4 separate regions of the Homo sapiens genome follow, and all the other regions are linked to region 4. Evidence: fine-mapped expression QTL. A gene starts in region 4. Each other region holds a variant in brackets. All regions are shown on one strand. Distances are between the middles of the regions.

Region 1 (8,101 bases), 140 kb after region 4:
ATAAAGTTAAAATATTCTATAAAGGCTTTGAAAGTTGAATTGATTTCTTTCAATGACTCCTAAAGATGAGGCCAATGTGGGTAGTTTGCTATCTCCCTATTTTATCAAATAATTTTAATTATATATATAATTTCATTTTTAATTGAATGAAAATCTTTTTTAAATTATAAAAATAATCTTGGAATAATTTCAAGTGTTAGAAAACTATATAGTACCTTAAAAACAAAATAAGCATTTGGTTCTTTTGTAGAGCATAACATAATCTTTAACTGGAAGAGAGTTATCTTTTAATGGTTATTCATCAGGTATGTACACAGCATAGTGACAACGATACCCATCGCCATGGTCAGGCAAATTGGGAAACGGTATACAAATTGGAAGGTGTTTCTCTACTTTCAGTACTTCCAAGAGTCTTTAGTATCCTCAGATGCACTGACATTTTCCAGAAAGGGACAGCAACATGCATCAGTTCCCAAACTAATTTCACCATGGTATCTTTTATTGCAGCGCATCTCCCGGGACTAGACTTCTATTGAGCACACTTTGGAAAACACCAAAATACACAAATTCATTCACTAATAAAGTAATCAAAGCATTTAATCATATATTTATCAAATATAGACTGGTGGTATAAATATGAACACTGACAAATCTGGTGCAAGAAATTTACTTGCACTTGTCACTTGAGAATTTGGTCATTTCCAGGGGAATATTTGAACCAGGGTTTCAAGAGGGATGGCTTGAGGCCAGGAAGGATGGCCAGAGGTAAATAACCCTAATGATAAACATGCATTATATTAGATATTTGCAACATAATCACGACATGTGAAGTAATGCAAAATGCTTGAGAGTGTGGTCAGAATGTGATCCAAGCCTTTATGAATAGATATTAATTATTTATTGGGTCATATATGATAAAAGTTCATCTTTAATAGTCTAAAGTCATCCATCAGCAGATGAGAACTTTGCATAATAACAGGATATATCTAGAAACACTTGCTGGCCATCTGCAAGTATCTTCTTACACAAAACAAAAAGGCCTGTTTGTGGCTGGCTTCCTTCCTTCAAAGCTGGAATTTATTCAGAGTTTGTCATATTTGTGAGAGACAGCATTTATCAAGTCAGATATTTTTTCTGTGTCTAAGTTTTCTTTAAGCAACATGTTAGGCCTTAAGAAATTTTATCATACTCCATTCTGTATGGTTCCATGTGAAATACTGCTAAATTAACCTCCTTCTTTAAAAATGCAATAAATATACCACTATTTGGTATATTTAGGGAGTATATGCTGATGGCACTTAGTGACCTAAATTGTGCTATTTTATACGGTTATCAAAAATACTAAGATTTTTTAGACTGAGTAGTGTTTTGACTATTGCACAGCAATGGACTCTCATTGTTTTTGAAATGTTTTATTAAGGCAGCCTTCAATCTTTGATATTGTAATAGAAACATACGGTGAGAATATGCAAATTCAAACTCTTGTCCTCTCTAAGAATGGGTGCAAACATACAAAAACCCTTTAAGTATTAACTAGACACTGCAGTGAGAAAAATTATCAAGGATAATAAAACTCTATATTAATATATTTAGTCAAGTTCTGTCCTGTTATAGCTATGCTGCTGTTAGTGTTAGAATAACTTGTAAAAGGTCAAGAAACAATAATTTTTTTAAACCTACAGCATGCTGTTAGCAGTAAAAACGTTACCTGTGTGTTCATAATATATTGGATTTAGAGGAAAAGTATATGACACAGTGTATGTGAAAAATCTAGGTATATAAACCTTAATACAATCTAAGAAAATACCATTTCAGCATATTGCCTCATTTTCATTAAAACGATGAAAATGTGAATTCAGAAAACCACTTAGTCCTTAGGCTAAAAATAGGTAGATCATCAAAACCTAATATCATTTTAGTCCAAATTGATATTTGTTTAGTAAATCTTCTACATCATAATGGGAGAAGTACAAAGGGAAACTCAAATTTGGGGGAGAAATTGAGGGGAGTTTTAAAAATAAGCAAATTTAGCTAATTCCATTCTGTTTGACTCTCCCCAAACTGGAGTCAGACTTGTCTTGAAACAAAGAATAAGTAGATACCTCAGAAATTAGCTTGATTTCATATTTTAGCCTCAGGTTTTTCAGTCAAATAATACTTCTATTTGCTTTTTGAATTCTTGTTTTTTCCTGACCATTTCTCAGTTTCTAAATTTCATCTCATTCAGCTTCACTTTTTCCCAGTGAAGCACTGCCACGTTACTTTCATTCTAAAGGTGCTGGGTAAATCTTGTCTATTTTTTGGTTATTTTAATGAAAATATTTTCTTATATTTATAAGAAAAAGCAAAGGCAGATTGTGCTTCTACATTATTTACATTTATTTACATATTATTTAAATTTTTTTCTTAGCAAATTGGCCCACAGACAGTGTCCTGTTTTTCTGAGCAGTAGGTAAATAATGACAACTTCTGTAAGTTCTGTGGCTACTCAGAATCTCTTGAGAATATATGTCCTGCTAAACTGCAAGAGGGCCACTTCCGGACCTGAAATGGTCTAAGAAATGTTGATCATGCTTCTTCCCACACGTGCTAGAAATTTCCACGCAGTTTGCAGATCCAGCCTAGGTACTTGTTAGATGGGTGATTACAAATTTCTTACGGGCTGTGTAGCACCATCACACTTTGCCAAGTAATCTCCAAGCTTTGGGAAAATAAAACAAAGCTCCTTACAAACACTGGATTCTCTCCTTTCCTTACTTCTTTAGCGTCCTACTTATCCTCTACTTTATTGTCTCTTTTTCATATGTAATAGAACATACACTGCAATAGGAAGCTGAAGATGTGGGTTCCCATCATAGTTCCATCCTGGTTCTTTTATCGACTAGCTGAGTGGAATAGGGTTGCCAACTTTGTCTATCTGAGAGTTTTGTTGTGAGGAAAATAACAAGCACTAGTTTTTGGAGTAAAGTATAATTTCCTCATTGCATATTAAACCCAACTCACCCGATTGTCAGAAAGATTCTATCTAGTTTGTGATTCTAAGTCGGGGGGGGGGGGTGGTTAGCGTTGAGTTTCAGGTTCTATAAGAACGGGACTAAGGAAACTCATTACCAGGTGGTAATCATCTTCATCTATTCAATAACACCGTTTGGTGTACACACTAAATTGTGGCACTGGAGACTCACATAGAACTGAAGTAACTCACCAGTTCCTAGAGGCAGGTGGGCACGTAGGGAGAGAGAGGCAGCGGCGCCTTCCAGGCGCTCTCCCTGGTACAGAGGCGGCGGGGGCCAGGGCTGTCAGGACACCCAGGCCCACGTGCCAGGCTCCGGCTCACCTGCCCGAGGGCAGAGCGGGAAGCTCCGCCCCTCGCGGAACCCCGGCCTGTGCGCAGTTCCCGTGCCCTAGGAGTTGGCGGCGGGGCCCAGCCGAGGTATAAGTTCCACAGCTTCACCCTTGTCGGTGTGATATGGGCGTGAAAGAAGACATAAAACAGGCTTCCCGAGTAGAACCTGCCACCCCGGGCTGGTGGGGACGCGGCACCAGGCCGGGCCGGGGGAAGCCGCTCGGACAGTGGTCCTTGGGTGAGCGCCTTCTTCGGGGCCCATGGGCCAGGCCAGTGCGGCCCGGGACGCCCCGGACCACCTGGGGAAGAACCGCCCGGGCCGGCCTTTGGCTGTCCCAGGCAGCGGCTGGAGCCCGAGTGGGCCCTGGCGGGATCTGGGACGGGGAGGGTCTGCGGCGCAGCCAGGAGGCCTGGGAAGTCCCGAGGTGGGTAGAGAAGGGCCGCGAGGGGGCGCTGAGACGGCGAGTGGCCGGGCCTGGGAGTGACAGTTGTCAGGAGAGCAGTCAGGACACCGTTGCTCAGAGTCCAGGCCGGTTAGGACCAGAGCCTACCCCGGGTGGCATGGTGATGATCCAGATTCAGGAGACATGTCTGAGAAAGGATCGTTCAGACTTTTTGACCTATTTTACATGAGGAATAAAGGATAGAGGTCAGGAAAGTTGTCCAAAAATTTTTTTCATTGTTGTTAAAAAGTTCATTTAGTGTAAAACAGGCAATTATCTGTGCGTTTAATATGCAGGCTAAGGTTGTTTCTTTCAGGCTTTCTTTCTTTGTGGCATGTAATTTCTATTTAACAAATGTATGTTGAGTGTCAGCTGTGTGTCAATTGCTATGCTAGATAACAGAGAAACAAATTATTAATAACATCCTCACTTTCCATGAGTTCAAATTCTAGTACAGGAAAAAGTCATCTAAATAATTCTAATGAAATGTCATAAGGCTAAATAACAAAGGTATATGTAAGGAATTCTATCAAATGTTCTATTAACTATTAGCATGGAACAATTAAGGGACTAGCTCTGGTTTCCAGATGGAATGGCCCTTATGGACATCAGGCATAATGGGTCATTTGCTTAACAGAAGGCAGAATTTCATATCTAATATTTTAGGTTATAAATAAGGGCATATAGTAGAAAGAGGCAAAAAGAAAAAAAAAGACAACGTACCTCCAAAACCCAGCTAAAACCTCTCTCTTTAGAAAGGACTCCTGGATTTTCTACAGTTTTATGTTTTATCCAGATGAGAGGTGTGTAATGTAGTCGCTAAGAGGCTGGACTCAGGAGCTAAACTGCCAGAGTTTACATCCCAGCTGCACCACTTACTAATGGGCTGACCTTGTATAAGTTGCTTAATACCTTGTTTCTCATTTTGCTTATCTGTGAAATGGGGATGATAATTATAGTCCCCATAAGATTGTTATGAAGATTTTTGTATTTCTAAAGTTAAGAGATGAAGTCTCATTTTCATTCCCTACGATAGAGCCTTCAGAATGACTGTACCCAGAAGTCAGATTTTTATTTTAGTAAATAAATAACTCGTTGATTTAGTACAGTTTTTCAAAGTTATTTTTTATCTGGTTTTACAGCAGATTCTGATTACATGTTATATTT[G/A]AAACTGATACTCATATATCTTCAGCTTAATGATTTGTAACATTGAAAATTGCATTTCCATTGATTGTTCTTTGCAGCATGATTGTTCTTTGTTACTGATATGATGATCTTTCTGTCCTTCTGCCAATAATTGGAAACAATCCTACATCATGAGCTATCTTTTTATTCTGAGGTTTTAGTGTTTGTGTAAACAAATAACACTTGCTGTTCAATGATTATATTTTCTTTAACACCTTTTTGCCTAAAACATGCTTTTGTTATTTGCTTTCATTATAAGGAAATACATGAAAAGATGAATTTAAAAGGCTCTGTTTCTGCCCTCCATGGCTGGTACTGTTTATCAGTTGCTCAGCAGTACCGTCACTGCTGGTGACATTGTTGGGGCTATTTAGCTGAACTATCGCTCAATTAGTCTTTTTCCATTATTTATATGTAATCATTAATTAATTAATATTATGTTCTCTTCAACAGAATAGTCACCTTGAAGTATAATGTCTTCAAGTGGGTCCTGGGGGCATAGACAGAACTGGAGTAATAGTCAATCAAACCTTCCCTTGATAATCCTCCCCACACAGTGCGCTGTACCTAATGCAAGCGCAAGCTACCAGACCGTGCATTACGAGTTTATTTCCATGCTGTTCACATATGTGAGCTGCAGAAGACCGTGATGCTTCAGAAGTTAAACTCTCATGTTTTCTAGATAGGAGGTGCTTCTCTAAGATTTTAAATGCCCTAACAGTTGTTTTCTGAAGTTGTTTCTCTGAACTTATGGGTAAATCTCCCAAGTGAAAGGAAGACCCTAAAACGTTCCCAAGTCTTGCCTTCTTCTAAAGGTGAGGGTAACCCAGTGAGCACACGAGGGGCTTGGCTTATGAAGCATCATTTTCAAGTCTTTGCCAGACTTTTTGCTTCCATTTTTGACATCTTCATTCATGCTATTGAACATCTATGTTACCAGTCTCATATTTAAAATACAGCAGCATACAAAACATTTTTTCACTTTGGTTGAGTGTAGTGTTTTGATAAGTGAACAATTTTCCAAAGGTTACTCAGCTGTTTTTGACTACTGTAGAGAACTGGTTAGAAATTCAACTGCCGTGCCACTCTCTGAAAAGACTCTTGATTTGCAAGAGAGGAAATAGTCATTGTGAATAGTTTCTATTCTGACCATAAAATGCTATATATTGTTTGATTTATCAGTGTACTAAAAGGAGGGACTTCCTCTGAGAAGCCCTTTATTTGGCATTTATATCCTTTGCAATTAAGAAACATTTTTAAATGTCATTAGCCAAAGGGAGAAAGATTTTCTTTTTGGCATGTTCTTTGGCATTTCTAGTGGTATGCTGGTAAATAACAACCAGTCCTCCAAAAAATAAAATTAAAAAAAAGAAACAAGTACAAAAAGAAAGACAAAACCCTTACTTACAATGACTGAAAATTTCTGTAATGTAAAAACTCCCACCATGACAGATTTCAACTGTCAAAATTATGCCACTAAACATGGAGTTGGGAAGATATGTGCACAGTCAGCTCTCACAAACCGGCACCAGCCGGCTACAGCATGCCACTGGTTCTCATCTTAAAATTGGTTATCACAAAATTTTTTTTTTCTGTTACATGTTTGGACTTCTACTAACACTTATGTTTATCCAGTAACTTTTAAAAAAATGAATCATAGTTTGTTTCTGCAAATATATAAATGCATGGAGCACTTAGGAGACTCTACCAATATTTTCACCTTCTTTCAGTGAATCAGGTTTTCACAGCTGAATTCTTACAGAGTTAGTACCCTCTTGCTCTTCATTTTGTTTGGTACTTTGTTTATTACAAGATGAAATCTCCTGGGAGTCCATAAATGAAAACATTTTAGTGTGTGCTCCAACCAGCTTTTAATTCACATCAATTTAGAAACTCGGAATTATTTAAAGTAGTTCTAGCTGTTCTAAGGTTAGCAATTAGCATTTTAATTTGTGCAAATGGCATTGAAAATACTGTATCAAAACAAACTGGTTCTCTTAACATGAAAGCCTTTAAAAAAGTTTTAAAAAATCAGTGGTAATCAATTTGAACAGTACAGCTTTTCCACCAAGAGAGAGCAACATAAGCACACGTAACAAAATATATTGAAGTGGCCATTTTACATTGCAAGCAGTAGGGTCATGTACATGTGTTACTTAGGAATCTATTACTTCATCTGCTTCTGAACTTGATGGATGAAGTGCAGTGATTAGTTAGGGTTATGGCAGTTGATGATGCATTCTATAGAGATCATCTTTTTGTCTTTAGGTATTTCATATGCACAATATGTTACTTCATTATGATTTCACTTATGGTGCACATTTATGAGTGTCTAAAAATTGACATTGCTTTTCCTGTCACAAATGGCTTTCAACAGGATACAGTTTCTCCATCTGTGCTAATAAGGTTAGGAAAAATTGCAATAGTTTTAAATGTGTAAATGGTGGATTTTAAATTTTGTTTTAAGACAGTATATATCCAACTTTAAGAGAACTGGTATGTCTGGAAATTTTCTTTAAGATTTTAGTACTGTTAAATGTAATGGCAGTTGTTTGAATATAAACAACTGACATTTGACCATAAAATGGAAGCCTGAAGATTTCATCACTAAATTTTGAACTTTCAAAGATTAACCTTAATTAGAAACTTTGCTGTATTTTGTGGCTTAAAGTCTTGCCTTAATTATTTTAGGGACACCGTTTCCACTCACAGTTTTCATACTTCAGTAAAACAAAGTGTCCTTAGGTTGCAGTAACTAAATATTAAACTTATATTGCTTCCATATAACAGCAGGAGTACCTGCAAAACATATCAGTTAAAACTCGATAAGGTCAAGTCTTAAAAATAACTGTAACAAATGATTTATTATACTTATTAAAGTCATGATTTACAGATCTTCAGGTACTTTTCAGCCTTGGGAGTGGGAAGCATTTACCAGGATAGGGGAAGAAAAAGAAAAAAAAAGGTAATGGCTACAAATAAATGCAACAGTTCTGTGCTTTCAGTAAAGTTATTTTTATGTGATTGTAAATTAAGAAAAATTCAGAAAAAATGCACATAAATGATTTGTTGTTAAAATATTTATTTTTAGAAGTCTTTATAGGCAAGAGCTTGTGGATTTAAAAAA
Region 2 (8,111 bases), 67 kb after region 4:
CCTGAGAGATGGAATGCATGTAAATGAGAAATTGGATCATAACAATGCTGCATTTATTTGTTTATGCAATTATTTTCTCAAGGCTAATTTTGTGGACATTCCAAAAACCATTCTAATGACAGTTTACTATCATAGTGAGTCAGAAGCATCAAAATGGTAAAATTCATTAATTTTGGACCATAGTTCATTGATGGAAGATCATACTATCTTCCATCTGATGATAATTCCAATGCATTGGTCTATTGCTCAGTGGGACCAAGAAAGTTTTATATACCCTCTGGCATTCTTTTTTTTCTGTACACATTTGTAACCCTCATTTGGATTTGGCTCTTTGGGGACATGTCTGTGAAAACCTGTTGGGCTGCTTTGGTGAGGCATGTATAGAGAGAATCAGGGAGAATAATGAGGGTCATTAGCTTTACGTGTATTGGTTTTAAGTGGTGTTTTTTCCTACACAATTGAATTAAGAGAAGGTAAACGAGCAAGACTAATACTAATGAGAGGATATGGAAATTAACTTTCTGTTAGAACGTTAAGTATAATTTTTAGATATGACCCAAACATAGCCAATGTGGGCCTATTAATCTCTGACACATTTCATGGTCTTGTCTATAGGTGGGTAAATTTTGCATCATTCTTGGCTATGTTAGTTAGAATGCATATTAATCATCTATAAACAATCAGTTAATAAATCTAGCTTTTCAAGTACTTTTATTTTAATTATCTTGTCAAACACCTGTCTGCATTTATGTAATTATTTGAAAATTGGCTGTCTTTATTAAGAATTGGTATACTTTATATAGATAACTGTTTAAGGTGAATCAATGGGATAATATAAAAAGAGAATGACAGGACGAGGTGGAGAAAGCAATTATGCAGTAAATTTTTATCTTGATGTCTTAGTTTACAAATTCCCTGAATTTAATTTATAACTTATTTTTAATAACCCGGGCAATTTCTCTAAAAGGTAACTATCAATATATGAAAAGCAGCATTCATCAATACCTTCCGTGAAGAACAGAGCTCTGTACTTTTGTTCTGGTCAATAATAAAAATCAGTAGAAAATCAAGCCATGGAGATTAAAAATGAGTATAATCATTAAAAAAAAAACTATCCTTACTGCTTTTTGTATACCTAAGGTATAAATCTACAAATCACGTTTTAAAGCAGTGATATTATGTTGTAAATTCTCAAAAACAGTAGTGGAATTTCATTTGTGTTTGTTTATATGACTCCTCATTTTCACATCTACTGAAAACTTGCCTTTACAATCTAAAAGCAGGTTATTTTCTACGTAGCAAAAACACAGATTTGTAATTCAGGGTCTGTTGATTAATAATCAGTCCCCACCCCCTCTCTCAGCCCGTACTGTTCCATACAGATACTTATCAGTCAAAGTTTTAACTTTTTCTGCTCTCAAGTGGTTTCAGTAATATTGGTGAAGATTTATATAAAGTGGCTTTTTGTCTTTTATTTTATATGCTATGGTGCTGTCATGAATTTGTTAACCTTGAACAAAATTTTTTGAAAACAGCCTCTCATGGGACATCTGATACTTATTCCCAAATATAAACTGGATTGTGGTTCTGGGTAACAGTGAGGTTAACTTCTGTCTTCCCTTTTATCACCCATAGAATAAATATTGTTCCACCAGGTAGTGGAATATTTGAGTCTAACCTGATATATAAGGTGGAATTCTAGAGGAATGATAGAGTAACAGTAACAATAATAGTACTCTGGGCTCTATGCTAAGAGTCTTACATGGAATCTCATTTTTTTCTTACATTAACCTTTTGCAGATTATATTTAGGAAAAATGAGACACACAAAGTTTAAGCAACATGACTGAGGTTGCACAGCTAACAAGTTACAAAGCCAGGAAGAAACATAAGAAGCCTATTTTAGAGCCAGGTTCTTAACTGTCTTTTTCTATTGCCTATACCTGTAGAGAGGGAGTTAAAATGACAGTGTCTTCTGAGCAAAAATAAATGAGACAGCTTTTCTCCTACAGCTTATTCTGAAACTTCAGTAAAACAACTTTTTAAAAATTAGGGTTAATAACTCACCCTAGTAGTATTATGTGTTTTCTCTCAGAAAATATTGAGAGCCAGTCTTTTAATTGGTAACAGTCTTCTCAGATAAAACTTATACACTACAAAATCATCACTGAATAAAGAAACTCAACTCTCAAGATTTTGTCTTCCAGCCCTTTCAGCCTTTATCTAAGTGGAGTTTCTCTACTGGTGTTTGTGAAATAATTTACTCTCCTTGGAATTTTTCCTTCCTGTCACCCTCATCTCTTCTGGATGGGGCTAGCGTATGCTCCTACCTTACTTGTTTTTAACATATAGAAACCACATTTATCAGCTTTGTTTTACTTGTTTACAAAGTAGTAGATTTACTTGAATATCTACTAAATGCCAGCTACTATTGTAGGCACTGGGAATGGTGTTATAAATAAGTCAGACAAGGACCCTTCTCTAATGTAAAAAGAAAAATATCAGCTTGTTATATGCTGTGTGTAGTGGTGCAGTAAGAAATGAAGGGTGGCTGCTTTTAACTTGAGGGTTAGGAAGGCCTCTCTGAATGTCTAAGAGCCAGACTTGGGAATATAGGGGAAAGATTATTCCACAAGAGGGAACAGCTAACTCAAAGGACTTAAGATAGGAAGAAGTGTCACTTACTTGAGGAACCCAAAGCAAGTGTGAGGAGTGCAGTGGGCAGGGGTAAGAGTGAAGAATGAAGTCAGAGCAGTGGCAGGGGCTAGATGCCACAGAGCTTTGTAAACTTGGCCAGGCTGCCAGTTTGTGGGCCCCGGTTATATTTGCACATATGAAATGAGATACAAAGGCATTTTCACTTCTTTTATCACAATCTTATAGGAATTGGTGGTAAAGACCCTGATTGTAGCAGAACCTCATGTCCTGCATGCCTATCGAATGTGTAGACCTGGTCAACCTCCAGGAAGCGAAAGTGTCTGCTTTGAAGTCCTGGGATTTGATATTTTGTTGGATAGAAAACTAAAGCCATGGCTTCTGGAGGTAAGGCATTCTTTAAGAAAAAAGAAGAGTTATCACTGTCCTTACGTATTAAAATAAATGCTTTAAAAATGTGTACTTAACACAGTTGTCCCATTAACTGTCCAGAATGAAGGCTGAATGGAATAAGTGGGAAGAAGAGGATAAAAATTCAGGGACTAGAACAGTTCTAAGAATGAATCACAGTGTTTGATATTACTTTTCCCAAATTAGCATCAGCTGAGTTTCTAGGCCAGGTATTTGGGATTGAAGTGTGGAGGTGCTTTTACTGTTTTGTTGCTTACTTGCTCTACTATTTTCTCAGCCTCCTGGCTTCTACCACATCATGAGTTCTGGATAGTGTCTCTCCTCTCTGTGAGTGCCTGGGCTTCAGGATCTTGCCTTCAGTGTGTCTCCCCTTCAGACTCTCCGAGAGGCTCCAATTGGTTCATTAATCAGTATTCAGTATTCGATACCCCAGGTGGTAAATTTCTCCTTTAAGGCCATGTTATATACCTGGGGCTTCCCTCAGGGAGACTGTCAACTGTATGCCTTCAGGTTTGCTGCCAGTCCCTGGTAGGGTGAGAGTTACCATTATTTTTCTTGGATGATAAAAGGTCATGTAACACATACAGAATAGTAAAAAGGAGAAAGTAAAAATTATCTCTGTTGACAATTTTTATATTTTTT[C/TC]CTGCTAGTTATATTTATATTACCCAGAAGAAACCTTAGAAGTCACGTGGTCCAGAAGATCCCATCCAGCAGTTCCCTTTAAGCTCCTTGATCTGGGTTTACACACCTTCTCGTGGCCGCTTAAATATCATGTTTTGGAAACGTAATCAGGAACATACAGCTGTAGAAGATGTAGTCAACCACTACCTTTCATTTTAAATCAAGTATCTCTCTTTTTGTTAGTGATTTATAAGTTAGAAGTTGTGTGTGTAATATCAAGGTTTGCATAAGCAAATTAAATGAGTGGTAGGTGAGATGATACTAAAAATACATTTCAAAGAAATGACACTTTTCTAATTTGAGGGCCAAAGATTGTGTGTGTGTGTGTGTGTGCGCGCGCCTATGTGTGGTCACATCTACTTTAAACAGTAACATGTATTGTGTCTCCAAGGAAATGCAGTTCTCTCTGTTGGATGTTCATATTTTGCTCCAGCCTGGGTCTTAGAGATAAGATAAATGTGAGGAAGTTTTACTTATCCTTTGCTTCCTCCGTTCCTTGGATATGAAAACACTTGACTATGCACTATGGACCCTTCATCTTGCTAAGGCCTGAAGTTTTCTTTAGATTTCTTACTTTTTCTGCAGCAGTCCTTTCCTGTTCTTAGCTATATTGTCTTCTGCCCCTGTTACTTTTCTTTTGTCATTGATGGAGTGGGGAAAAAGTGAAGGCACATGCATAAGGAGGATAGTAGGAAATAATGACTTTATAGATATCTTAGTTACCTTTTTAGAAGAAACATTTGCTTCACTAGAGCTTTCCATTAGCTTGCTAAATCAGAATTGACTGAATGGTTGAATTCTGGATTTTAAAAGATTCAAAATAACCATTGTTTGCATGAATGTTTCTTCATTCTTTACTCTTTCCTTCGTTGTTTCTAGATCAATCAGAACCATTAAAACACTCCACAATAACCAAGAGCTGTGAATAATGAACATTTGTTATATTAAAACAGTTAAAAGAATCTTCAATCTTGCCTTGTGTTTTGCTCCCTGCTGATATTTTGGTGGGGCTAATATACATTGTTAAAAACCTTTTGGCGCCATCAAGTGGAATAAGGTAGAAGGTGCTTCTGGGTATGTGATAACTTTTAGTTAACCAGAATAATTTCAGGGACTGATTGCTAGTGGCAGAATTGCACAAATTTTCATAAGTAGAAAACATTTTTTTAGGAAAAACATGGAACTTTGGTGGAGTATGAAGATACCACCAATAGTTTTAAGTACTCTTAAATTAAACAGGAACCTACTAAGTTATAGTCATTGTGTTAGGTGGTGGGAATATAAGAAGACAGAATACTTGCCCTGGTGTAGCCATTATTCAGATGTGCATTTTATGGTAATAGTTATAAGTACTAGTAGGTAAAAGGGAAATGACAAAAACAATAGCATGATTAATATCTCTGTGTACCTGTGTGTATCGGAGAGTTAAAAAGAATCTTTACAGAAGAAACACCTGAGCAAAGATTGTAGGGCTACAGAAGGTTGGGGTAGGGGCTGGGGGCTGAGAGAGATAAAGTAGGGGTGGGGAAAGGCTGTGGTGCAGAGGGAACAGCACTAACTTAGGAGCACAGAAGCTATTATGGATACTTTAATTTGTGGAAAAAGTGATTGTTTTGATAAAACTTTTTAGGACAGTTGAAAATAGTGTTTACTAATATATATTTTATAATAATTTTCATTTCTTAATGCATTTACAAGCTGTTGAATTTTGAGACTTTAACATCTATGTTTTGTCTGTTTTAGAATTGGGGTAGGAAATGAGAACCAAATAAATCATCTCATTATAGAGGAGAATTTTGGCTGGGTGGAACACTAATTTTTAGTTTCTTCTGTCAGCCATTTGTGGTTTTTCTTTTATTTTTTTTCTTTACCTTTCTCATAAAACTTAAAAAAAAAAAAACAAGAACAACCCTGAATGAAAACCTAAATTGAAAAAGGTTTCCTGCCTTTCCACATATTATTAATAGTTTATCTTGTGTGGGTATACCTCTTCATAGACCAATTTATCTTATAGTAGAGGGAAAAATTTGAAATAGGTAAGGAGAGAGAGAGAGATTGAGATCTGAGATGGCTTTATACCAAGACCTCAGTACCATCCTGGAGGAGGGATATGCCTGGCACAATTCCACACTGAAATTTGGAATGGAAACTCTGAGGAATTCTACAAAGACAGATAACATGCCAATGGACCACTGACTCATCAGTTCTTTAATGTCTGGTTTAGTTTATAACCATGTCACATATAGTGGCAACACTGTCATTAGTTGTATTATAAACTCCAGAAATTTGAATCAGTATGGTTGAAACTTTTCTCCCATAAAATATATTACTTTACCCTTTCTTTGCACTTGCAAAGGGAAATGCTTAGAGCTTTCGTAATAGATTAATAAACTCCCTTTCTCAAATTGACCTATAATAAATGGATGTTATTGCCGTTTTCAAGCTATTTCCTTCTCCTTGAGACTATATCACAAATAAAGGAATGTGTCCACCACCTTTTAAATCAGAAATCAACAAAGGAATCAAAATACAACATGGCATATCTCTATAAAAGGAGTACCATGCATCCATCAAAATGATGGCATGATGAAAGATTTTCATGATACATTATTAAGAGAAAAGCTTGGAATGTAAAATAAAGTATGGTTAGTATAGACATGCATTTGGAAGGTAAAATGAATATTTTAAATATGTATACATAGAAAATATCTGGAATACTATCTACCAAACGGTTAACACGACACTAAGTGTTAAGTAGTGGGATTACAGGTATCTTTTGTTATTTGTTTTCCTTAGTTTTACTTATTTTTCTGCGGTGAACCTGTGACACATTTCTAATTAAAGATGTTGTATTCCTGGGTAATTTCTTGATTATAATGTGATATTTCTTCAGGTGCAAGTTGTGGAATGAATGCTTTCAATTGTTTTGTCTCTTGTGGTGACAGATGTGTATAACTGTGACTAGTAGCATATATACATATGTTTGAGATAGCCTAAGGGATTAGTTGGTGGTCAAGAAGCTAAGCTGTTGTGTTGAACTCAGCAGTGTTCTAACCAACCGATTTAACTGATTAAGAAATTTTCTTAAACATCAGCTATTCCAGTTATATTTTTATAACAATGACAATAGTAACAAGACTCAACAAAGACAAAAACAAACACTCCAGCTCTTTTATTTTTCATCTTAATGAATTCCTGAAGATCTGAGGCAGTGAAAAGGGAGCACTGATAGTTTCCATATTTTAAATATATAGATGTATATAATTATTATTGTGTTGATATAATTATTACTGTGTTGGTAACATGATGAATATCACTATTTCCTTTTTGTTAGGCTAAATCACTTTTAACTTTCCTAAACTTAAAAAACCTAAATTGCATGGGGTAGTGGAGAGAGTGGAATGGAGGGAGAGGCCAGCCTATACTGACAGTAAAGCTCCTAAACTAAGGCAGCCTTGGGAAGGAGATGGTGCTAATAGTCAATCCCTTGCAATTTGTTGACCTAGGGTGATGCAGAATGGAGATGTGGCAATAACAACTGGGCCATCTGCCATGTAAAGCTTTGAGGTTTAATGTAGAGTTGTTCTACTGGCTAGAGATCCCACATTGGATTAACAAATATGTATTGAATATTTATTTACCTTCCAATATTGTCTTCTTTGTAAATTTCAGATTAACCGAGCCCCAAGCTTTGGAACTGATCAGAAAATAGACTATGATGTAAAAAGGGGAGTGCTGCTAAATGCGTTGAAGCTACTAAACATAAGGTAAAATACTCTCTCTATCTTTTGGACATTTATCTCCACATTTGACATAGATTAATCATTTGTACATAAAATTGGCTTTTCAGAATAGTATATTTATTTTTATATTTTATAATTTTCATTTCTTGATTCCATCCATTTTGTATTTTTCATTTCTTGGTTCCATCCATTTTGTATTTTTCATTTCTTGATTCCATCTATTCTTTAAACTCATATAGTTAAAAAAAAAAATCTGTCCCCCCTACTCCTGTATACTGCTTTTCCTGCTTCCCAGGCAACAGTCTGTACCTGCAGTAAATGAGGTTAAATTTCAATGTAGGTATAATTATTTAATATAGAGTACAAGATTAAATTGGTAAATACTTTAAGAGACCCTCTAGATTATCTTCCTCATCTTATAAGAAGAAACTAAAGCACAAAGAGTTCATTCAGGAAATTAAAAAAAAAACTCAAACATGGATTTCCTAACTTTCTCTCCAGAGGTCTTCCCATTACATCATGCTCCCCATGTAAATAAAAAAGAGAGGCAGTTGTTTAGTGAGAGTTAACTTTTCCATTTAGAGAGGCAAGTAAAATTTGAGAAAAAACTTGGCTGGTAGGG
Region 3 (8,111 bases), 120 kb before region 4:
ATATATTCACTAGAAGTAAAATAAAGTAGTAATCAAGTTAGGAAAACAGTAAATATAGTCAATTGAATGTGTTAGCAAAATAACATTTCAAAAGTCAGAGTCCAACAGAAAATAAGAACTAAATTTATTGTCTATAGCTATCAAATATAAGAAAAAGAAAAAAAACCCGCAAAATTCATATTTATCTCACACAGTAAAAATAGCTCAGTAATGTGCCAGGAATAATTAGACTTTTATGGCAGATGATTAATTGTTTTGAACTCATGCTGTTTACCTAATTAAACTATTAGTAATACCAGCAGGTAAATTAACTTCATACTTCTTTTCTGGAAAGATAGATTTTTAATACTGATACAGTTGAATATCCCTCCTGCAGAGCTGAATACACAAGCATTTTTGTTTTCAATTTTTTTTCTTTCCAACAAAGAAATGCTTTAGCTCAATGTCGTATAGGTAATTTTAAGGAGCAGGGGAAAATTAGGATGCTTATTAATGATAAGCTTAAATTACATACAGCTATTTTAAGATTTTATTTGATAGATTACTATTTTGTAATTGTTCAACTTAGCAGATAATTCTACTCTTTGGTCTTCCTCCCTATTTATCTTCATCTCATGTACAAATGTACATTTTCTATAATGTGTTTCAGGTAACATACACAGCTGTCAAGACCTGAAGTACAAAGAAAAGAGGAACTTACAGAAAGATGGAAGAAGAGTATGCCATGCAGATGAAGCTGGGAATTAAAGACCCAGATAGAGGAATAAGGCAAAAAGAGTATGACTACTAGGAAGAGAATGGATTCAGGAATCTTCTGTGTAGGTGGAAGGTAAGAATGGAAACATGAAAAATAGTTAAGGACTACTGCAAAAGTCCAGGCAAGAGATGATGGATACCTGAACTGAGGTTGTGGTGGGAAAGAAAAACAGACAGATTTCATATATATTTTTGAAAAACAAGGAGATTTGATGATTCATTGAACCCAGAAAATTAATAAAAGTAATAAAAGATAATTCCTACTTTTTTTGGCTTGAGCATGTGAATAAGTAGTGATGCCAGTTATTATTAAGCTGGGGAAGGGTGAGGAAGTGATATAGACAGGAGGCGGGGAAATACTGGGTAGAAGAGGGCAGACCCCAACGAGGGCCACACTCTCAAGCCTGGACCTGCAGTCCAAAGTGAGAACATGCATTCCTGTTTTCCTGCCCAAATTTGCCTTTTCCAAAACCATGTTGGCTGTCCCCACCTCCCCATCCTGTACCCATAAAAACCCCAAGCCCCACCAGCAGAGTGGCAGAGTGGCAGAGGAGAGAAGAGAGGCAGCAGAAGGACATCAAAGAGAAGCAGCTTGACTTCAGAGGAACAGCTTGACAGCAGGACTTCGCAGAAGAGTTCCACAGGGGACGGCTGAACTCCAGGAGAAGACCACCTTCCCACTCCATCCGCTTTCCAGCTCCCCATCCTGCCAAGAGCCACTTCTACTGCTCAGTAAAATCCTCCACATTCACCACCCTTCAATTCATTCATATGACCTTATTCTTCCTGGATGCCAGACAAGTACTCGGGTACCAAGAGGGCGGGTGCAAAAGGCTGTCACCCTGACCCTCCACTGATCTGTTAAACACTTAAGTTGTCTGTGGATGGCAAAGCTAAATGAGCACACTGTAACACATGCCCTCTAGGACTCCGGAGGTCACAGGTTCCCCTCCCCTCCCCCCCACCCCCCAGGAAGCTTCCACTGGACTGCACAGGATTCTACTCCTGCGGATGCCCAGAAGCACTTGTCCCAGTCCCTGTACCCACTCACCTGCATGCTCCCCGTCCCGTGAGGGGATGAGAGCTGCGAGCTGAGTAAACAAGTCAATCCCTTTGTGAGTCCCGCGAAGGGGTCAAGGGAACTATCCCATTTCTGAAGGAAGGGGCTGGAGGGGTGTTGTAATAAAAAATTCTATTGGACATATTAAATTTGAGATGCTTACTAGACATACAAATGGAGATTTCAAAAAGATAGCTGAATATGAGTCTGAAACACATCACTGCCTTCTAAATTTTATTTTAATCATATGCATATCTGTTAACAACTAGTTTATACTTCTGGTTGTATTAGGGAAGAAAGATGGTTTAAATTTTCTTTAACTATTAAGTAGATCCTCCTCTTAATTGTGACTGAGTCTTGAAATGCATACCAAAGGTCGTAGGCTCTCTGTACTTCCTCTTCTTTCTAAACTCCCGATGGATTTCTGATAAGCAGAATGCTCCCCCTATTAATTCCATCTACTGCCTGGAAACTGTGGATATGTTTCAATATATGCCTAACTGGACTCTGCGGATGTAATTAAGGCTACTAATTAGTGACTAAATAGATTCCTCTGGATTACTTAGGTGGGCCCGATCTAAAAAAATTTGCTCTTGAAAGCAGAGAACCTTGTCCAGCTAGGAGCAGAAGAGAGCCATGGCAACATGTCATGAAATTTCACGTGTGAGAATGATCAGCACACCATTACTGGCTCTGAGATATTACAGCCTATGTAGAAGCACCAGAGAGAGGGCTCTAAGAGCTAAGGGAGCCCCCTAGATGACAGTCAACCAAGAAACAGAGACCCTAGTCCTATAACCATAAGGTACTGGATTCTGCCAGAAGTATGGATCAGCTTGGAAGTAAATTCTTCCCCAGAAACTCCAGATAAGAGCCTGCCAGAATTCTGACCTACAGAACAGTGAGATAATAAATGGGTGTTATTTTAAGCCACTATTTAAGCCACTATTTAGTTATAGCAATAATAGAAAATTAACACAAGACTTAAATGTAATAAGGTGATGGGGATGAGGAAAGTGGGATTCTATTTCCAGAGTACTAAAATGTATGAAATATGGACATGTGAAACTCCTAGTCATGGTTGATGTGGGCACTGTCTCCCTTTAACACTTAGAGCCCTTCGTGTTGATGAGAAAATTTCATTGATCTACTAACGCCCTAGCCAAGACTATAGCCAGGTAGTCCCATAACTAAATCTCCAGATGGGCTTTCTAAATACCTGAAATGTGAAGATGAAACTTCTTCCCTCAACCACCACTACCACCACAGAAATGGTGCAGGGCATGGGATAGTCACTCCTTTCACTCACATGAGAACCCTCAAGAGCACTGATAGGGCAAACTGCGAACCTCAGGCATTTGACTGCTAGTGTAGTTGCCTGACTCCACAGCATAAAGAGGTGAAGGTAGGGGGCTATAGGCTCAGACAGCAACATTACAAATGTCCAGTTTTAAAAAACACATATTTCCCCTTCACCCATAATTACTACGATAGAAACCCAATTTTCACCATTCAGATAATAACCTGAAAACCTCACTCTTCAGATAATGTGTGTAAAAGCATTCTGGATATGAAAGGCTGTAAAGTTATACTAATACAAAATGTAAGAAACTTCAGGTAAACCAGTAGTCAAAAATCATGCATAGAAGTTCCATTTATGTAAGACGACTTTCTCCTAGCTAATTCCTACTTGTTAATCAAAGTGTAGTTCAATGTTATTTCTTCTCTTCTAGTTCCTAAAATATATTAACACCCACGTTACTGTACTGACCACATTGTAGTAATTGCATGTTTATACTTCTTTTTGTGAGTTTCTCATATCATTTCTTACCAGAATCTAACACACTGATGATCACACAGTATACACTCAATAAATGTTTTTAAATTGATTAATTTCTTCAAGATACCATAGCTTTTTTATGAGATAGCTTTAGGTATCTAAAAGATGAGTCACAGACAGAAATAAAGGCCCTTTATTAGGCCCCAATATATCACATATATTTCTACACTACTTTAGGGAGCTATGCATTTCCAGTCTTCAATTTCTCTCTTTTAATTTAATATTATTGAGTGTAAAAATGTTAAGAAAATACAAAGCTTACTGCCTAGAATATTTTGGAATCCATTTATATTAGACTATGTAACATATTCTAAATGTTGTAAGATTGACTATAACAATGCTAACTTATTATATGTCAGATATCATTCTAAGTGTTTCACATGAAGTAAATAAAGCATTTATTCCTCACAACAATCTACCTTTATATTGGATATTATTATCCCATTTTCCAGAGTGACAAAGAGGTTAAGTGTGCTGCAAAAGGTCACAAATTGCAACATTTTATAGCGTTCTACTTTATTTTCTCTATCCCTCTCCAAAAAGTTTATCAAACCAATTTTAAATGAATTACATTTCCAAAAGTTTTAAGCCTTCCCAAATTCTTTTTTTTAATAAATGGCAATATATAGAAGTGTCACAAAACTAGAGGTTTAAATTACTAAGATTTTGTTAGTACTTTGTTGTTGTACATATGGTTTCTCCTTTTATTTTAGAAC[T/G]CTAGTAAGTGATTACTGAACCCATTAGTTTCTCTATAAGGAATTGGTGCTGATTTCAGTAACTTTCATTTCTATATCACTCTCCAAGTAACTTTCTTATGATGATTCTGATAAATAGCTTACCATGTTGATACAGTTTTAATTATCAAGTAATATCTGAAGAAACTTTAGTATTGCAGAAAAGTCAAAATTAACTACAACTCCATACCCTGGGAGAAACAATCTCATACATCACTATGTGGTATTCTATTCCAATAAATTCTAACACATTTTAGAACTATGAAATAAAGGTGAGCCTGAGGCACTAGAACTACATTATTGCTTAAACTGACCCTGTTTTAAATCACCCAGGCCCCAAATATATGGTCTGCTGCCAACCATGGCAGAACGGTTAGATGACACTTACCTCACAATATTATAAGCTACGGAGTCAGCCAGAAGGTGGCAGAATGGGGCCATTTAGGCTTCACATACATACCAGAAAAATCTTTTATTGTCATTACCTTAAATTTTAGCAATATAAGATAAACACAAGTTTAGGTTATTATACAAATAAAAGTGTAATGTACCAGAAATATGCAATAACATTATTTTATTTATACAAATCAAACTATAAAATTCTCACATAAACTACCATATCAGAAACTAATATCCATTTTCCCTCTCATAAATCTATTTATACAACCCATGAAAAAATTAAGTCTTCCAAAGATCCCCCATATAATTCCAAAACGTCCTTTTAATTCACTAACAATTTAATGGAAAAATACTAGTAAACGTCACATTACATTTAATTTGGTAAGTTCAATCATAATTACTATATAATGGCAAGGTAAAATCTTTTATAAAATCTCATATAACTTTTAAGAAAACAGTTGTTCTTATATTGAGCTGGTTTAATGCAATTTAGACACTATGACTTAATATATGGCAGATTAGCCATATGATTCTTCTATTACATTTGACTGTTTACAATGGATCTGTTTATCTCTGCATTCCTGGTACCTATCACAGGACTTAGAACACATAAACCCTCAACTGAGAAACATTTGCTCAATTGAGTATAAGATTTCAAAGAGAAAACTGAAGGCCAAAAGCAATTAAGCAGACAGCTAAAACACCAATTTGTCTTAACATGGTTATTTTTATTTTTCTATCAGGTGACCAGCCTTCCCAAATGAAAAATAAAACCACCCACAGAAACTAGATTTTAAAGCCAGATCTGCCAACATTAGCCAATTTACATCAGAGGGAGAGGCTGAAGAGTGCTGGAGAGAATTGTTTTGGAGCAGTTATGAGGTATGCAACACATTCAGGGCAGGAGGTCACCCTTACCTCAAATCAACTGAGGGGCTTCAAGGAAACCACTCAGAGACTTAACATGTACCCTATCTGCTAGGATTTATAAGAGTTAGGGACTGTTTTGGGGGGACTCACCAAATGTACAAAATGTAAAGGTACTAAATGGTAGATAAAACCACCTCTGCTCAGTGGCAGAGTGAAAAGAATTATGTTGAGAGGGGGCTCAACTTGGAATAGCAGGGAAAATACATTTATGTCCTATAGACCCCAGAAAAGAGAGTGTGTGCAAGGGAATCATAAATTGCCAGCCAGAGGAGAGGGCTTCTCTCACAAAGAGAACTGAAATCTGAGGGCCACAGCAGGTTTACTGTGAAGCTAACAGAGATTAAATTTCAGGACCTCTCAAGTGCAGGCAACCCTTCTAATACCCTGGGAGAGATTCTAGCATTGTGTTCACAAGGACACATGCTTTTGTAAGACTTGCAAAAGTAAGATATTTTAATAGCAATTGGTTGAGATTGCTGTCTCTTTTCTCTCCAACTTCCCCTTCTTCACACTTTCCATTATGTCAGGTGCTAATGGAGTGGCACCAGGCATTTTAGAGATCTGAATAAGGGAAAGTTTAGGGGTAATGTACAGTTTTAGCTACGATTGGCAAGAAGTTTGGGGATTTTTCAATTAAAAAGTTAAAAATGACAGACTTGTGATTTGAATGTGTACATATATATGTATATGAATATATATGTATAATACATGAATGTATATGAGGAGTACCTCCTTTTTCATCTTCAAATTTATGTATTAAAAAAACAAGATAAATTTAGAAGAAACATAATGAAATATGAAAGAGATTATAAAGAGGAGACATAAAATCAATAAAAATGTTCCTATATAGAAAAGTGAATTCAAGTTATTTTTTGTAACAAATACACTAAATCATGAAAAAAGGAAAAATTCCAAATAAAAATAATGAATAGGCATGTTGTTTCATAATGTAATTAATCAAGAGAATATGAACATGTTAGAAAAGATGTTTAAGTCTCTTGGCAATTGACACAAAATAGTAACAATAACAAAGATACATAAAACTCGTGATAGCTAGTACAAGAACATTAAAGACAAACTATTAGTGATTATTGTTACTTCAAAAATTACCTAAGATCAAGATTTGAAAAGTCTTGAAATCTTGTAGCTCATACACAAAAGAAACTTCTCAGGGACCATTACCTGGTGTTTCTTCAACCATAAAAAACAAGTATCTGGGAACCAGAAGGTGGAGGTGGGAGTGGTAGATATCACCACCCTATTTCACTGAATCTATGACTATCAATTATAAAAATCACCATTATATCATGTACCACTAAGAAAAAAAAGAAAAATGTACAGCAATTAAACTATGAGATACTTTGTCAGTTATAAATTTTTTCCCTATTAAGAGAGAACTATTTTTGATTTATTTAGACATAACTTTTTAATATCACTCTTGTAAACATATGAAGTGAAAAAAATTTTAAACTTGTTAAGAAATTCCTAAAATGCTTTCATATTCATAGTCTGACTCTTCCAGACTATTTTTTGATGCACAGTCATTATTGTGTGTTTTTACACAATTATTGTTCTTTATATCAAAAATATTGATACAGTATTTTTTGAGGCGCTCTACTACCATCTCCTATATTTTCTTCCAACCTGCTGATACGCATTTTCATGTTTGTGCATGTATAGACAATAACAAGCACATCACAAGAATTGCCTGACTGATGTCATCATTTTAGGAAGCATCCTAATTTCGAATACACTAAAATGTGAGACAAAAGTATGTATGTCAAAATTAATGAACTATAGTATGATAAGTTACCCATTTGAAAATTTTCTACTTCTTGTCTCTGTAACTTTGGACTCTTTAACAGTTGAGACATTTTAATACCCTTGGAAGTACTCTTCAAGAAATATGAATTTAGAAGTACTCTTCAAGTATGGGGAGTACCTGTAACAATTAATCCCTTGAACCAGAAGTTTAGAGTGCCAGCTGGGCATTCTGGTCACATTTCACTGAAAAATACAGGCCGAAAAGGAAAGTTACTTCTGTTTGAGTGATTAATCCTGGTTATTACTGAGACATAAAGTTGTGTTATAGATGGAGGTGGGGTACTTTCTTGTAATTTGCATATTGAGTATAAAAACAGAGAAGACTTCAGTATTCCAATATAGGAAACACTACCAAGGTCTCAATGATTCAAGAATGATGGTCTAAACTACTACCCTGAAAAAGAATCCCTTCTACACTTATATGCTGCAGTGGGAAATTTATAGCAACTTTCAAACAGAACAAGGACTATAGCAGCTACTCATAAATGCCACCTTGCTATGCTATATGTGTGCCTATGTATGTGTGTACATATAAACACATCAATTTCCTTCTTGCCTTTCCCCAGGA
Region 4 (8,111 bases):
AAATAAATTACAGAAAGCATCATCTCTCTGTTCTGGTAGAAGACCCTACAAAAGGAAATGGAAAGAACATTTCATTCAGAATACAAGTGCTATAAAAAATTTGGTACAACTTTGGTAAGAAAGTTACAGAACATATATAAGCAAAATTATAAAAATATGATTGGGAAATGAAAAAACATAAACTAGAAAAGCTTATTATCTTCTTGGATGAAATGACTTACTGTCATGTAAATTCTCCAAAAATTAAAACAAAAGTCTAATGCAATATGACTTTTTGTCTTATATAAAATGCCGTATAATAATTAAAAAGGGCTTAAAGTCCAATATCTATATATAAAAGTAATTTTGAATGAGTATCATTTTAAATTTGGGGCTTTTTGAAGATTTGTTGAGAATGACAAAAACAACACTGAGAAAAATTCTAAACCCTTTAATAAATACATTTTATATGATAAATGTAAAATTACATAATGTAGGTTTTAAATAACAGCCTCTTATTTCCTTCTTAATAAAAGGTGGGATTAAGGGGTTAAGTCTAGAAGCCTGAATGTTATTTTTTGTAGGCCCCATATTGTTTTTGTCCAGTATGGTCTGGTCAAACTTGGCTGTACATTAGAACCACCTACAGAACTTCATAGGAATCTAGTTTCCAGAGTCTCATGCAGGAGTTCCTGCAATCATAATTTTGCAGCAAGAATTTTAGGCATCACTGGTCAAGTTTATGTTACAAGGTTCACTTCTTATTCTTAAATTCAGGGTCTCTTTTCTGAGCACAGAAACCTAGAAAAGGGTATCCAATGTTTAAATCTTCTGTGGGAAATGACTCATTTCCTCTTAGAAATGAGAGTTGAAAACAGGTTTTTAATAATAAATAAAAAATAGATTCTGCTGCAGAGAAACATGCAATGTACATGTTCTCTATAGCAGGAGACAGTAAAAGTATGCTGATATTCACGTCATGTATTGGTTAGTGTTTGAAATCCAGCTTTGTCTCTTTCCAATTGTGCTACCTTTGACAAATTAATACACCCTTGTAATTCTCAGTTTCTTCATTTATAAAATGGGAGTGATAATAGTACTTACTTCACATAATACTAGTTACTCAAACACTAATGATTTAATAAGTGTTAGCTAAACGCAAAGAGAAACAACACAATTAAGCACTCTCTTCAGCAAGAATAAGTTGAGAGGTTAATGTCACCACATGCTTTGGTAAGAGACCAACACATAGCAGGTACTGGAATATCTTGCATCAAGATTTAACATTTTGTGGCTCACAATGCAGTTTTATCAAAGGCATTAAGTATTCTCTTTCTCTCTAGCTCTCTTCTTATTAGTATCATTTAAAAAGTAATATTGGAATGTTCCCAGATCATGCTAGTTTGTGAATACAAATGAGTTCATGTTAATATCGGTGCCTAAATAAGGTTTAACAATCATCTTGAGTTTAATAATGATTCCCTTGACCCTGCAGTGCCTCCCTAGTCTCCATCATTTGCAGCAAGAAATCCTCAGCAGTGTCTTTCAGGTGCTCAGGAATAATACCACTCCTGCTTTACTGCTCTGGGCTCCTACTTAAGTTACCTTGACCTTGTATCGGCCACCAGTGTTCTTTATGAGAATATACCCTCACTGGGCAGATCAGTTCCTATCGCTGGCAAGGCTGTATGGAGGTCTATTTCAGGTTGGGTGAGAGAATGGCTCTCTTGCCAGCTCCATGCTGTCATTTGTCACCAGGCCTAAAGTAGTACTTCTTAGAACTTAAATTTCACAAAGTCATTTGTGGGGAAGATGATTATTTAGCTTCTGGCCCTAAGTTCTTTACACAGCAGGCTCAAAACCATTTGAGGACTCTGAGGAAAGCAGGGAATGCAGGCATCACACCATTCCTTCCACTTCTTTTGACAATTTCCCAAGGCTGCCAGCACAAAAATTCCCCTTTCTTCATTCAGAAACATATGTTCCAAGAGTGTCAACTTATACAAACAGATTGCTGCAGATGTCACTGGCCCATCCGCACCACAAATCATAAGGCTCTAAATTCCTTTCTATATCCCTATCATCTAACATCTGACATAAAGCACTAACTCAGAAGACGCCTCATCTACATGTGTTCTGTTCCTGTTGTTGCCTTTGAAAGTGAAACAACTGCACATGGAGAGAAGAATCACACATTTCTGAGCCTGAGGCCAGTCTGGCCACTGGGGACCCAATGCTCCTGCTCCTCGGCAACATGCAACTTTGGGGATTTCTGTTTTGCTGCTGCTGACGTGTGAATCTTTACAACAACCATTAACATAGTAACAATATCATATCATACAGAAACAATTTAATTTTATTCCTGATTTCTCAAAAAGCTTTCTTGAGGTGACGTTAAGTGTTGCTAATACCTCTGTTACTTAACATTTTTTTTGATAAGGTATATGAGGACCCATGATAATAGGTTTATTGAAAAATTCTTGCCCCTTCCTAGGAATGGAAGAATGATAACATGTAATGTAGTAATAGTGCATGCATAGTGTAAAGTGTAATACAGTGAAAATAATGATGTAAAGATGATTAACAAGAAGGCAGTGGAGAATTCCTCTTCAACCTCATGTGACCTTGACAGTGTATTGTGACGCTGATGTTCGGCTAGTTCTGGGTGAAGTCCAGCTTCTTCTTTCTGATCACTCTTCTTGCCTCAGGGTGATGCCTACCCTGGACACCTAACTGCCCCCTCTCCATTCTAAAACCCCTTCTCACAAAGGAAGGATAAACAGACTCACATTCAAGTTGCAATCACAGATGTGACACGGTTTAATGTATATCGTTCTCAGAGGCATTCTAGGGGAAAGGAACAAGTCAAAAACTCCAGGTGGCAATGTCTGCTCTGCCGCTTATGATCGTGAGACTAACCCAGCACGACAAACCCTGAGCCCAGTTTCTCACCAGTGTCCTTTATGAGAAGATGCCCTCACTGACCAGATCAGTTCCCAATGCTGGCAAGGCTGTATGGAGGTCTATTGCAGGTTACCAATCTCACAGGAGTTTTTAGAAGAATAAATGAAGAAATGAAAATGAGACTATTCTCAGCACAGTGGTCTATAGAAAGTGCTGAATTTATGTTGATTTACTCAACGAAGGACAAAACTTTAAATTGTGAAATTTTATATTTTTTGGGATGCACTTGGAGGGCCTTTTTTTTTCCTACCTTTAATCACATTTTATAGGTAGTTGCCAATTCTGTTCTATCTTTTCTTTTTTTCTACAGGGAAAACTGTACACTTGTCCTGATCTTCACCATGCTCTGAAATGAACCTGTGTGAACCCAGCGTGACAGAAGCAGGGACCACAAAAGTCTAAGGAATTCATGTGTTAGGACTTCTTCCAGTTCTATACAATTCATTTTATGAGAAGACATGATTGCCTTCCCGTTTTCAAGACACGCAACTCTAAAATGGTGAACAATGAACCTCGAATATTCTTTAATTTCTGCAACAATCTTCTGTAAATCTTTATCTCGAAATGGCTTCCTAAATCTACATTTTTTTACAACTGCCGTGGTTCAACATTTGCTTAGCAGGAACTCTAGGTCAGAGCTGTCCCTCAGCATCTACGGGATGGGGCCCCACCTGATTTTATTTCCTAACTTTCGAGCTGGCCTCAGATACCCGTTTATTCTTTGCTTCACAAAGATGCTTAGATAAAAGATCTGAAGACTCTCTTCAAAGATTCAAAAAGCTCCACTGTTTTGTGGGAAGATGTCTGTGGTCAGATAGGCAGGTGGATCGGGCGCCTAGGGCCCGGAGGTAGAAGGAGGTGGCCGGAGGCGCTCAGGCCAGCGCCTCTCGCATCTCTGAGGAGGGGCGCCGCCCAGGCGCTCGCGTTGCTAAGTCCTCTGTTTGCCGCGTTCTAAAGGAGCCCCGAGCGGGACCAAGGCAAACGGGGGGGGGGTGTGTGTGGCCCGGGAAAGCTCGAGCAGTGTCTTCAGTAAACCCCCAGAAGAGGCAGCGGCCCCTCCGTTGATCCCTCCTGTCCCCAGGACCTCCTGACTCCGAGGGGGCAGAGGATTCCCCGAGTCCTTTGTTCCTCCCAACCGTCGCCGCCCCCGGCGCCCGCGCCTCTCGGCACGTCGTGCACCCCCGGCCGCAGCAGGCGAATGGTCTGGCCCGTCGGTAGCCGCCACCCGCTTGGGCAGCGACAGCTGTTCCAGGCACTCCGCGTCGAGCACCGGAGTCCCGAGCCGTGGCTGCCACGGGCGGTGGGCGGGCGGAGGAGAGCACCGGACCACCAGTGCAGGCTGCCGAGTCGGGGCGGCCGCCCACGGGGAAGCTGCGAGGCGCGGGAGCACCTGGGGGACCGCTTGCAGCGGGGACGCGAGGACCCGGGCTGGGCTTTCCTCACCCGGGTGAGTACCTGCTGCCGCCATCCTCCCCCGACCCCCTTCCATGTCCCCACGTCCCCAAAGGCTCCGCCCTGGCCCTCTTTCCGGGCCCCCATCCCCGGACTGTCACTGCTCTGGGGACACCGTCCCCGCTGGGAGCCGCGGAACGGGGAGCTGCTGCGTTCGTGCAAATGATTCAGCACCATTCGTGCCCTGAGAGGTTTGGGCAGAATGGGGGAGGGAGAGGGCGGAGGGGACGGGGTCAGTTGCTGTGATCTCAGCTCAGTTTTTAGGCTCCAGATGGGAGACTCGGGCGGGCGGGGTCGGGTTGGGTGAACGAGGAGGCTCCCTGCTGGTTTATTCTGTAATTCCGTCGTTTTCCCACATCGTGGTATAAGCCTCCGCGAGTATGCGGGGCATTCTTGAAAGGGTATCAAAATGCCCTTTTCGCACATGCGAGTGAAGTCTAGGGCCCTTGTAGGTACCTCTCACTTTCTCCACATCTTGCTCTGTTGGATGCCTGACTCATGCCATCATCCACTTATATCACATCGCAGCGTTCCCTCGACTGATGTAAAAGATACCCTATGAAAGTTGCCTTGTATTCTGGGTGGGTTTGATTGATCCTGGCATAGAAAGAAAAGATTTAGGAGAGGTAGGAAATAATACCTTCATAGCCTAGGCACTTACTTTTATATATCGTATTTTATTAAATCATCATAATCCAGAACCAAATGTGGAAACTGAGGAGCAGGGAAGTTAAATTACATTCTCAAGGTCACAGAACAGGAATTCGAATATAGGTTTTCCTGACTCTATAGTCCATGGATTTTCCACTGTATTAATGGAGTGTGTCCAAGTGTACATATATATGCTCTATTAGATATTAAACATAGAATTAATTAATTGAGGAGTAATCTCAAACAACAGCAACAACAACCTGTAAACTTTCTGCATAAGGAATTATTGCTCCTTCAATATGAAAGAAAGATGCTTTGAATCATGTGAAAAATAATCTATTTTCTTAGAAAGCTTATGGCAAAAAATATGTGAACAACACTACATAGGAGAGTGAGGTCATAACAGGAGATGTTCAGCACATTTTTGGCAGTGATATTTGGTGGATGCTCAAGTGTTGGAGAAGTCGATTAAAAACGTAAGAAGAACTCTGGAAATCTTTTTCTGTCTTAAATGTTAGGGAGACATTTACAGTAATAATAGTTACTTAGTTCATGAGGTGTGCGACTGAACTGCACCCCACAATAGGGTGACAGGTGAACCCATACTAAGATAATGTTACTTGATTCATTACAACTCTGTGATATTGCATAACAGGTGATAACTCCATTTTACAGACTAAGGAACAAAATTCAGAGAAGGTTCAAGACCACTCAGTAAGCCATGGAATTTGGACAAGCCTTGACTCTTAGTCAGTTTAGAAATATGAGTGTTGTAGTAAAATGTAGTTCTTATATAGTGGGAAACTGAATTAGTTTGTTGTTACCCTGCCGTTAAGAGTCAACAATTATATTGACCTTCTATGCTCCTTCTGTAAAAATAATGGATGCTAGGTCTTTCTTCGCCCGTTGATGGGTCCTTTGACTTGCTTTCATTAGCGACTTACAGATTTTTTCTTAAGAAATGCATCTCTTGTTTATGTCTCAAGAGGCAGGTTGCTATAGTACAGATGCTCATTATCTCTAAATACTCACATAGTATTGATGGTAGGCAGGAACAGAGTCATCTTAGTATGTCATTTCTAAAGTATTGAACCATTTGCATTGGAGAATTCTTTTTCAAGTTAACGGGGGTATTGATAAAGTCCACTGCCTAAATAAGGACATAAAATGGAGGCACAAATTTATATTTGTTGTTCAAACAAGAGTATGAGAAGTGGGGTCTTGTGAAGAGTCTTGAGTTTGATTCCTAAAAGTCATTTCATTTTGTTCTTTACATGGCTATAACCTATATCCTGAACCTTGGCAAGGCATCTTGTAATCCAATCTGTTTAATCCTAAGGGGGACAGCAGAACTGGCATGAATGAATAAGCAAAAATACAATACCACTGCTGTTAAAAAAAAAAAAAGGAAAGTGCATGTCCTGGTGATGGATGGTCAGCAGCAACATTTTAAAACAGAGACAGCACATTTTACTTAGATGACATCACTGAGAGTATGAATATAATACCAACTTGGCTTTAGAACTGCTCTCTCTCCTCTGTCCAATGACTACAGTCTGCAAACCATCTAAATTCCCCACTTCAAGGAACTTAAAGTCTAGCAGGGGAAATTTTACTTACACGTGAGTAATTAACAAATAACTTAGAATTGGCTTAATACCAGAAAAGGGTGGTGCAGACCTACTGCTATAGCGGTACCTTAAGAGAAAAGAGAAATAGTAGAGCCTTGGATGATCAGAGGATCAGGAAAGTCTTCATGGGTTGAAGTGAATTAAATCAGTCTCAGAGACTGGAAGGATTCTGATAGGCAAAGAGAAAGCCACATAAAGGTTCAGCTAAGAAGTGCTCATCTACTGTTTGGATACATGGTGAAAGATCATGAAGAAACTTGAATGTCAGACAGTGAGATCTGTTTCTGATCTGTTAATCATTTCTCTTTCTTACATTCTCCATATCTGTTGCCCCGAGTCCCCTTCCAGGAAATGGTCTGTTTCCTGGGTACTAAAAGGATTGTCAACTAAACTGAGAAAAAGTTTTCTGTGCAAGTACAATTTTTCCTCTTCCAAAGGAATTTGCCTTTTAGCTCCGGCCCCCATTAGATAATTATGAACAATTTGGAAAGTTTAAGAATATAAAAAGGAAAAAAACACCCTCATAATTTGACCAACTAAAGACAATCACTATTCATTTTTGACATGTTTCTTTCCACTTTTTTCATGCGTAGTTTTAATTATGGTATCTATATTACTTTTATATTATTTTTAAATTTAAAATTCTATAACTTTAGTTTTCATTTAATTACAACTGGCTTAATACTAGGTTTAAAATGCCTAATAGCAGGCTTAAAAATGACTACATAATTTTCCATTTGGTAGATGTATTATCATTGCCTAATTGTTCCTCATTGTCACTATTGATGACATCATAATAAACAATTATTGATGATAATAATAGCACTGTGATGAACATCTTTGTGCGTATGCTTTTTTTTGTATTTTGAATATTAGTTCCTTTGCATAGAGTCTCAGAAATAAAATTTCTGGGTTAAAGGGTATGAGGTCTTGAAGTTGCACTATTTTAAGCAAGTTTTGAAACTACTGAGTTCTTATATTAGGCCATTCTTGCATTGCTATAAATAAATACCTGAAACTAGGTAATTTATAAGAAAAGAGGTGTAATTGGCTCACAGTTCTGCAGGCTGTACTGGAAGCATGGCAGCATCTGCTTCTGGGGAGGCCTTAGGAAGCGTCCAATCATGTTGAAGGGGAAGGGGGAGCAGGCACGTCACATAGCAGAAAGCAGGAGCAAGAGAGAGAGTGAGGGGGTGGTGCCACACACTTTAAGTGACCAGATCTTGTGAGAACTCAGAGTGAGCGCTCACTTACCGCCAAAGGGATGCATTAAGCCATTCATGATGGATATGTCCCCAGGATTCAAATATTTCCCACCCCCACCTCCAACACTGGGGAATAAAATTCAACATGAGATTTGGATAGGGACCCATATCCAAACTGTATCAATTCCCAGTGTTCAATTTGGAATACTTACATGTTGATTATAGAATA

Alleles and levels. Positions count from the first base shown, and alleles are read on the strand shown. Sizes are in standard deviations (SD) of each study's normalised expression. Not every link is listed here.
In carriers of allele G in region 1, the expression in liver of the gene that starts at base 4,189 in region 4 tends to be lower than with A alone (moderate effect, 0.57 SD a copy in GTEx).

The links.
Region 1: its variant is fine-mapped to the expression of TTLL7 in liver (GTEx, PIP 0.98).
Region 2: its variant is fine-mapped to the expression of TTLL7 in whole blood (TOPMed, PIP above 0.99).
Region 3: its variant is fine-mapped to the expression of TTLL7 in whole blood (TOPMed, PIP above 0.99).

Annotation. Positions count from the first base shown.
Region 1 is chr1:83,856,302-83,864,402 of GRCh38, reverse strand. LINC01725 (long intergenic non-protein coding RNA 1725) reads left to right here and starts at 3,407. Exons shown (of 3, transcript NR_119375.1): 1 at 3,407-3,584. LOC101927560 (a long non-coding RNA gene) reads left to right here and starts at 3,857. Exons shown (of 3, transcript NR_119374.1): 1 at 3,857-3,995. RefSeq lists silencers at 3,319-3,448, 3,549-3,728. The variant G/A (reference allele first, on the strand shown) is at 4,957.
Region 2 is chr1:83,928,538-83,936,648 of GRCh38, reverse strand. TTLL7 (tubulin tyrosine ligase like 7) reads left to right here. Exons shown (of 21, transcript NM_024686.6): 9 at 2,883-3,041; 10 at 7,419-7,513. Among named protein-coding and RNA genes, the nearest start is that of TTLL7-IT1, 52 kb to the left of the region's middle. The variant C/TC (reference allele first, on the strand shown) is at 3,708.
Region 3 is chr1:84,119,692-84,127,802 of GRCh38, reverse strand. It overlaps a transcript of PRKACB not described here. Among named protein-coding and RNA genes, the nearest start is that of PRKACB, 21 kb to the left of the region's middle. RefSeq lists an enhancer at 4,739-4,888. The variant T/G (reference allele first, on the strand shown) is at 4,373.
Region 4 is chr1:83,995,210-84,003,320 of GRCh38, reverse strand. It overlaps TTLL7 (tubulin tyrosine ligase like 7), which reads left to right and starts at 4,189. Exons shown (of 21, transcript NM_024686.6): 1 at 4,189-4,390. LOC124904205 (a long non-coding RNA gene) reads right to left here and starts at 4,033. Exons shown (of 2, transcript XR_007066195.1): 1 at 3,615-4,033; 2 at 1-45. RefSeq lists silencers at 4,290-4,389, 4,400-4,529.